Linked DNA regions of Homo sapiens. The protein of the gene in region 1 binds, or shares a complex with, the protein of each later gene. Each region holds a gene or a part of one and is shown on either strand. Other genes may lie near its edges.

Evidence for each region. The genes of interacting proteins can lie anywhere in the genome.
Region 2: DPM2 (region 1) and DPM1 share a complex: the UniProt entries of both Homo sapiens proteins name them as parts of the dolichol-phosphate mannose (DPM) synthase complex.

The regions. Positions count from the first base shown.
Region 1 is NC_000009.12:127,935,755-127,939,354, reverse strand, and holds the start of DPM2 (dolichol phosphate-mannose biosynthesis regulatory protein), read left to right. Parts: upstream 1-1,500; 5' UTR 1,501-1,534; coding exon 1,535-1,537; intron 1,538-1,831; coding exon 1,832-1,921; intron 1,922-2,044; coding exon of another isoform or gene 2,045-2,140; exon of another isoform or gene 2,141-2,538; intron 2,539-2,576; exon of another isoform or gene 2,577-2,699; coding exon 2,700-2,802; intron 2,803-3,574; coding exon 3,575-3,600. UniProt on the Homo sapiens protein: Regulates the biosynthesis of dolichol phosphate-mannose. Regulatory subunit of the dolichol-phosphate mannose (DPM) synthase complex; essential for the ER localization and stable expression of DPM1.
Region 2 is NC_000020.11:50,948,503-50,952,236, forward strand, and holds part of DPM1 (dolichol-phosphate mannosyltransferase subunit 1), read right to left. Parts: intron 161-3,734; coding exon 127-160; intron 1-126. UniProt on the Homo sapiens protein: Transfers mannose from GDP-mannose to dolichol monophosphate to form dolichol phosphate mannose (Dol-P-Man) which is the mannosyl donor in pathways leading to N-glycosylation, glycosyl phosphatidylinositol membrane anchoring, and O-mannosylation of proteins; catalytic subunit of the dolichol-phosphate mannose (DPM) synthase complex.

The sequences.
Region 1 (3,600 bases):
CAGCAGGCCAAAGGCCTCCACATAACCCCTCAGGGAGGCCTGGAGTCCAGATGCTGTACTCCAGTATCTAAACAATCACTCAATCTTAAAGCTGACAGGTTCAAAGCTCTTACTTTGGGCCGAGCGCAGTGGCTTACGCCTGTAATCCAGGCACTTTCGGAGGCTGAGGTGGGTGGATCACCTGAGGTCAGGAGTTTGAGACCAACCTAGCCAACATGGTGAAAACCCATCTCTACTAAAAATACAAAAATTAGCTGGGCGTGTTGACACGTGCCTGTAATCCCAGCTACTCGGTAGGCTGAGGCAGAAGAATCGCTTGAACCCAGGAGGCAGAGGTTGCAGTGAGCTGAGATCATGCCACTGCACTCCAGCCTGGGTGACAGAGTGAGACTCCCGTCTTGGGAAAAAAAAAAAAAAACAAAAAAACCTCTTTCTTTGGGCCAAGCCTCCACTGAGTGCCAGGGATACAGCAGCAACCTCAGACCCTACCCTCGGGGCTGACAGGGCTGGATCAACAATTGCATCAGTGAATTAAAAGGCACAGGAGGCTGGGCACCGTGGCTCACGCCTGTAAACTTTTGGAGGCCGAGTTGGGAGGATCGCTTGAGCCCAGGAGTTCGACACCAGCCTGGATAACATAGAACTCCGTCTCAAAAACAAACAAACAAACAAAAAAAACGTTCCCGACTGGCTTCCCTGAGGAACGTGGCGTCCCAGTGAGACCGGATGGGTGAGGAGCAGCCGGCCTGTGAGTGGTGGGGGACCGCGTTCCTATCTCGGAGCTGAAGAAGCGTGGAAGATGATCTGGCCCAACATCTCTTTGTTCTCAGAGGAAGGGCCTTCCAAGACCGGGGAGGGGCCTGTGCGTGGGTCCCGGTCCGAAACGTGTCTGGGCTGCTGCGAGAGACAGTCGGTGAAGGAAGGGAGGGGACATCCGAAGGGTGGCCCGGGAGGCCGGGCGATGGTGAGGAGGGCGCCTCCTCTCCACCAAATCCTCCCCATCCATGCGGGCTAGGGACAGACCCTCCCCCGCCCACCCTAGGCTGGAAAGTGAACGTTCTCTGCACCTCTCCCACCTACAGACTAAGTAGGGCACCCGGTTTCCGTGTCGGCTTCACCACTGACTCGGAATGGGATCTACCTTTCTCTGAGCCTCACTTTTCCCATCTGAAAAATGGAACTTCCGATCCCGCACTCCCATCCCACTCTGGCCCCGGGACTCTGGGATACTTAGAGATTGGCTTTTGGTGGGGCGGCGACAGGACTGTGGCCATGAAGGCCAGGGAGTCTGGGTCCCCAACTCGGTCCCATTCCCTAGAGAGATTCGGGCAGCAACCGGCCCCACAATGCTCTTGAGAACTACACTTCGCCGATATGCAAAGAAGAGGAGGCGGTTCCTGCTCGTCTCCGACGAGGTGGGCCCGAGCAGGCCTGGGGACTACGACTCCCGGCGTGCTCCGCAGTCCAAAGCCGGAAGAGCGTGGACCCGGAACCGGATGTGGCTTGCGGCTCGGGTGGCTGAGCGCGCGGGGAAATGGTGAGATTGGCACCGTGTGCCGGAGATAGGGGCGTCTGGGGGTGGGGTCCCGGGTCTGCTCAGGAGCTGGGGCATGGGCACTTGGAACGGGGATTGCTCTCCCGCCCCCACTATTGTACGGACGACAACGCGGAGGCCTAGCATTCTCTCCCAGCCTAGAAACTGATCCCTAGTCAGCCCTCTACCATCTGTTGAATGGGAAGCTTAGACCGTGATCGGGCCGCGACGCCCCGCTTCCATTAGTGCGCCGAAATAGAGGGTCACTTCGTCAGCTGAGACCTCCCTTTTCTCCAGGCCACGGGGACAGACCAGGTGGTGGGACTCGGCCTCGTCGCCGTTAGCCTGATCATCTTCACCTACTACACCGCCTGGGTGATTCTCTTGGTATGTCATTCTCCCCGTCCGCTGCTCACCTTCCCCGAGCCCTGGCACCGCCAGAGCAACTACTATATAGGCTCTAGGCACGGCGCTGGCTTCATTGCCTGCCTCATCTCTTGAACTCTCCAGAACAACTCTATGAGGAAGATGCCAGTGGTACCGCATTTTATAGATGAGATAGCTGAGGCTAGGGGAGAAGGATCTGGCCCAAGATTGCATCCTTAGCCGCTACACTTATAACTCTGTTTCCGGCTTGCTTTGACTTTTGGGGGAGTTCTGTTCCTTCTGGGTTAGCCTGCTGACTCTTAGGCATGGCAAACGCCAGTGATATTTGTGAAGGCCTTTAGGATATTTTTTTCTTGTGGGAAAACTTGTTGGTTATTGCTTAAGAAGTGCAGTGTGTCTGGAAGTGCAGAACTTGGTATCCTTTAGAGAAAAAATATTAGTGAAGAAGCCCTGGAGGCCCAGGTTGGGAGTCAGTCGAGGATTCCTCAAGTACCATTTGCTAGGCTGTGAGGTGCCTTAGGGCAGGTCTCTTGTGCCCTGTTCTCTTGTCCCCACCACCAACCTATAGCAGGCACCAAAGCAAGTGCCCGGTAAATACCAATAAGAAATTAAGGAAAGAAACAAACCACGACACCCAAATGCCGTAATCTTAAAGAAAAGCAAATGCAGTCCCAGTCCTCTGAATGGGTCAGCCCCTTAGATGGAGGAGGTGGGACGTTTGGGCTTGGGGGCTCGGCAAGGCAAGCAAGACACACCAGAGCTCTTCCCTCGATGCCAGCCATTCATCGACAGTCAGCATGTCATCCACAAGTATTTCCTGCCCCGAGCCTATGCTGTCGCCATCCCACTGGCTGCAGGCCTCCTGCTGCTCCTGTTTGTGGGTAAGTCATCACCTCCTCCCCTTGACCCTGGGCAGGGTTTCGGGAAGACCCCACCTCTGAACATGCTTCCACACTTTGGCGGTGCTGGAAGCTGCTTGCCCCGAACTCACCCGTGGGGTTTTCCTGTTCATCCTTCGAGGCTGCCAGTCAGTAACCTCTGGGTTTCCTGGTGCCCCAGGCTTTTTGGACTCCAATGACCTGTCTACCTCTTTCCTGCCCCAACCCCATCATCACTCTGCTCACACCTCAGTCACCCTCTTGTCACCCTGGCTTCTAATTCCTGCACCTCTCTCTCTCATGGCTTCCTAGGGATGGGGACTGTGTCTCCATCATTACTGCACATCTAGAACAGGCTGTGGCACTGAGGCTGTGCTCAGAAAGTCATTTGGATGAGTCAGTCAACAGCCGGGTGCCTGGATGATGGGTGGATGGATGGGTGGGTGGGTGAGGTGTAGGAGGAGGTGGGTAGGTATGTAGGTGGACAGACAAGTGGTTGACCGGGTGATCGATAGATGGGTGGATCTTGTTCCCCTTGGAATCTGAAACACTAAATGCAGCATCTTGCTTGAGGCAGGCACTCAGTTGGTGTTTGTTGAGTGAATGTGAGTAGACATATGCCTTGACGAATGACTAGGGAGATAAGCAGGTTCCCTGGAGGATGGTTGGGTAGGTTCACAGCCCTGTGTGTGGGTGGCTCTGCTGTGTCATGCCCTGGCCTCCCAGCAGCCCTGAGCTTAGATCTTATGTGGCCTTTCTGGTCTGTGTATCCCAGGACTGTTCATCTCCTATGTGATGCTG
Region 2 (3,734 bases), on another chromosome or scaffold:
AAGATCATTAAAAACCATCATAGGAAGTTACTGTATTTTGGCCCTATTCCAAACTGGGAAAATACACACTGGATCATGTCACCAAGCAAGCAGCAGGTGTGAGGGGTTAGAGATTACACGACTTACCTAGTCCCAACTTTTTCTCTCGTGGTCTTAGAAGCTGTAGGAATAAGAAATAGCATTTTACACACAGAAACAGAAATCTTATCATGTTAAATTTTATCTTATTCAAAAGTGCATACTCACTTTAATAGAAATATAGTTGCACTTGTTAGAACTTAAAGCAAAGTATCCTTAATATTTTTTTGCCAAAAGAAAAAAAAAAGCATTTGGTAACAAACCAAATAGTTTAACGTAGCTAACATTTTTTTTTTTTGAGATGCAGTCTCGCTCTGTTGCCTAGGCTGGAGTACAGTGGCGTGATCTCCGCTCACTGCAACCTCTGCCTCCTGGGTTAAAGTGATTCTCCTGCCTCAGCCTCCAGAGTAGCTGGGATTACAGGCATGCACCACCATGCCCGGCTAATTTTCGTATTTTTAGTAGAGACAGGGTTCCACCGTGTTAGCCAGGATGGTCTCGATCTCCTGACCTCGTGATCCGCCCGCCTCGGCCTCCCAAAGCACTGGGATTACAGGCATGAGTCACCGCGCCCGTCCAGCAAAGCAACATTCTTTAACCCTGACCCTACAATCACAATTTTAAACTTTTTTTTCTGGTGTCACTCACTCTATTTTAAATATGTCTTTACATCTATATTTGATTTTCCTTTTAAATCTATTGATTCCTTCCTAGAAAAATGTAGGACTTACTTCATTATTTTGCACCTTCTTGGGAAATCTGATGTTTGTTCTCTCGATTCCCTTTGGGTTTTGAATACTAATATCACTCTTCCTCTATTAACTTATCTTGACCTTATGCTTGGATGACCTCATCTCCTCTACTGGTCCAAGGACATGTCATATTCCTAATTAAATTCTTTCTCTTTTCTTACTATTGGTCAATCACTTAGTCCTCCTAAATCTTTTTGCTTAATAGTTGGAGCCTGACTTTTACTTGTTTAGTTTTTCCTTTTGGCTGGACACTTTAAAAGTCAAATGCCAAAGTTCTCACTGTGCCCTACGTTTCTGAGGTATGGGGTTCAGGGAGACTCATTAGTGAGCATGTCTTGTCTATCTTGTCCCCTTCTACACTTGCCAGTATATAAGCAGGTTGCCTCTGACTGCAAATCTCTCAACAAAGCATTTTCAATTAAAGCAGATGATTTTTTTTTTTTTTCACTATATGCAATCTGCTGGAGGTTTCTATTTGCATGGAATGTCTTTTTCCATCCCTTCACTTTGAGTCTATGTGTATCCTTACAAGTCAAGTCTTTTGTGGGAAGCATATAGTTGGCTCTTTTTTAAAAAATCCATTCAGTCACTCCAGGTCTTTGGAGAATTTAATCCCTTTATATCCAAGGTAATTACCGACATGTAATGTAAGAACTTCCTACTGCCATTTTGTTAATTGCTTCTAGTTGTTTTGTAGATCTTTTGCTTCTTTCTCTTTCTCCTTTCCTTTATGATTATCTTCTGTACTATTATGCTTTGATTCCTTACTTTTTATCTTTTGTGAATCTACTTTAGGCTTTTCCTTTATGATTACCATGAGACTTACAAAACCCATCTTATAGTGATAACAGGCTATTTTAAGCTGATAACAATCTAACTCTAACTGCTAAAAAGAAATCCTCTACACTTTTACTCCACTATCCCCACATTTAAAAAATTTTAAGTCACAATTTGTATCTATAGCAAAGTACATCTTGCATAAAGATGGATAAAATACACTGCTGTCTGGTAAGAGCTTACAGGAAGGAAAGACATTCAAATAAGCATCTATGATAATTGCAAGTCACTGAACAAAATCGAGCAGGATATATCAGATCACAGCTAGATTTTATTTGATTTTGTGAATAATTTCTGACAAAATACTGATCCCCATCTGGTATCTGCCCTGAAAAAGCAAATTTTTTAAAGCTCATCTGAGATTTTCTACAACTCTGTTTTAGCTGGAAAATCTTTCTTTTAAAAAAAGATAACTTTGGCCAGATGCAGTGGCTCACACCTGTAATCCCAGCACTTTGGGAGGCTGAGGCGGGTGAATCATTTGAGGTCAGGAGTTAAGAGACCAGCTTGGCCAACGTGGTGAGACCTCATCTCTACTAAAAATACAAAAATTAGCCAGGTGTAGTGGCACGTGCCTGTAATCCCAGCTACTCAGGAGGCTGAGGTAGAAGAATCGCTTGAACCCGGGAAGTAGAGGTTGCATGAGCTGAGATCACACCACAGCACTCCAGCCTCAGTGACACAGTGAGACTCCGTCTCAAAAAACAAACAAACAAACAAACAAACAAACATAACTTTGTTACAGTTGCACACCCCCTTAACCCCAAGTGATACTTTCTAAGACCCCCAGGAGATGCCTGAAATCTCCAATAGTACCAAACCTTATATATACTTTTTCTTATACATACACACCTATCACAGTTTAATTTATAAATTAAGCACAGTAAGAGATTAACAATACCCAATAATAAAATAAAACAATTACAACAATATATTGTAATAAAAGTTATGTGAACTTGGTCTAACTCAAAAAATCTTCTTGTACTGTACTTACCTCTTTTCAGACTGCAGGTAACAAATCACGGAAAGCAAAACCATGGACAAGGAGACTATGATACTTATAATTTTCAGAATCTTCAAAGGTTTATATAAAATATTAGAGTATTATGGAGCCATTAACAGAAATGAGGTGAGCTGGTGACAAAAGATCGCCAAGACAGAATTAGAAGTAATGATGATACAGGAAGATGGCAGTTATGTTTTAAAAAACAAGACCACCACACTACCTAGTTCTGCAAATGCACATACACACATATATGCACAAAAAAACGCACCAAACTGTTGACCTGGGTCTCCCCTGTGCAAGGGAATGGGATGCCTATAGAAAATGTTCATCAGGTCGGGCGTGGTGGCTCACGCCTGTAATCCCAGCACTTTGCGGGGCTGAGGTGGGCAGATCACCTGAGGTTAGGAGTTCAAGAAGAGCCTGACCAACACGGTGAAGCCCAGTCTCTACTAAAAATACTAAAATTAGCCAGCATGGTGGTGCAGGTCTGTAATCCCAGCTACTCGGGAGGCTGGGGCAGGAGAACTGCTTGAACCCAGGAGGCAGAGTGTGCAGTGAGCTGAGATCTTGCCATTGCACTCCAGCCTGGGCGACAGAGCGAGACTCCAATCTCAAAAAAAAAATAAATAAATAAATAAATAAAATGTTCATCAAAGGCAACTTCGGTTTTACTGGTAACATTTATATTTTACAAGGATGTGCTTGTTTATTTCTTATGTAGGAAATCCAAACTATTTCTATTTGGTATGCTTTACTTTCAGACTCTTAATTCCACCTCTCCACCCTCCCCTGATCCTTTTTTGCCTCTTCATATCAATCTGATGGCCCCTTTCTATGTGAGGCAGGATAGCATTACAGACAGGAAGATGAACCCTGGAACCACAATGCCTGGGTTTGAATCCTGGCCACTACTCATTTGCCATGTGATCTTGAGAATATAAAGAGGCGTGACAAAGCCCCCTCTCACTTGGCTTTCATGAGGAACAAGCAAGTGGATTCACATAAAGTGCTTGCAAGAATGACAGGCATATACTTTTTGAAGCATGTTTGCCACAGCTGCT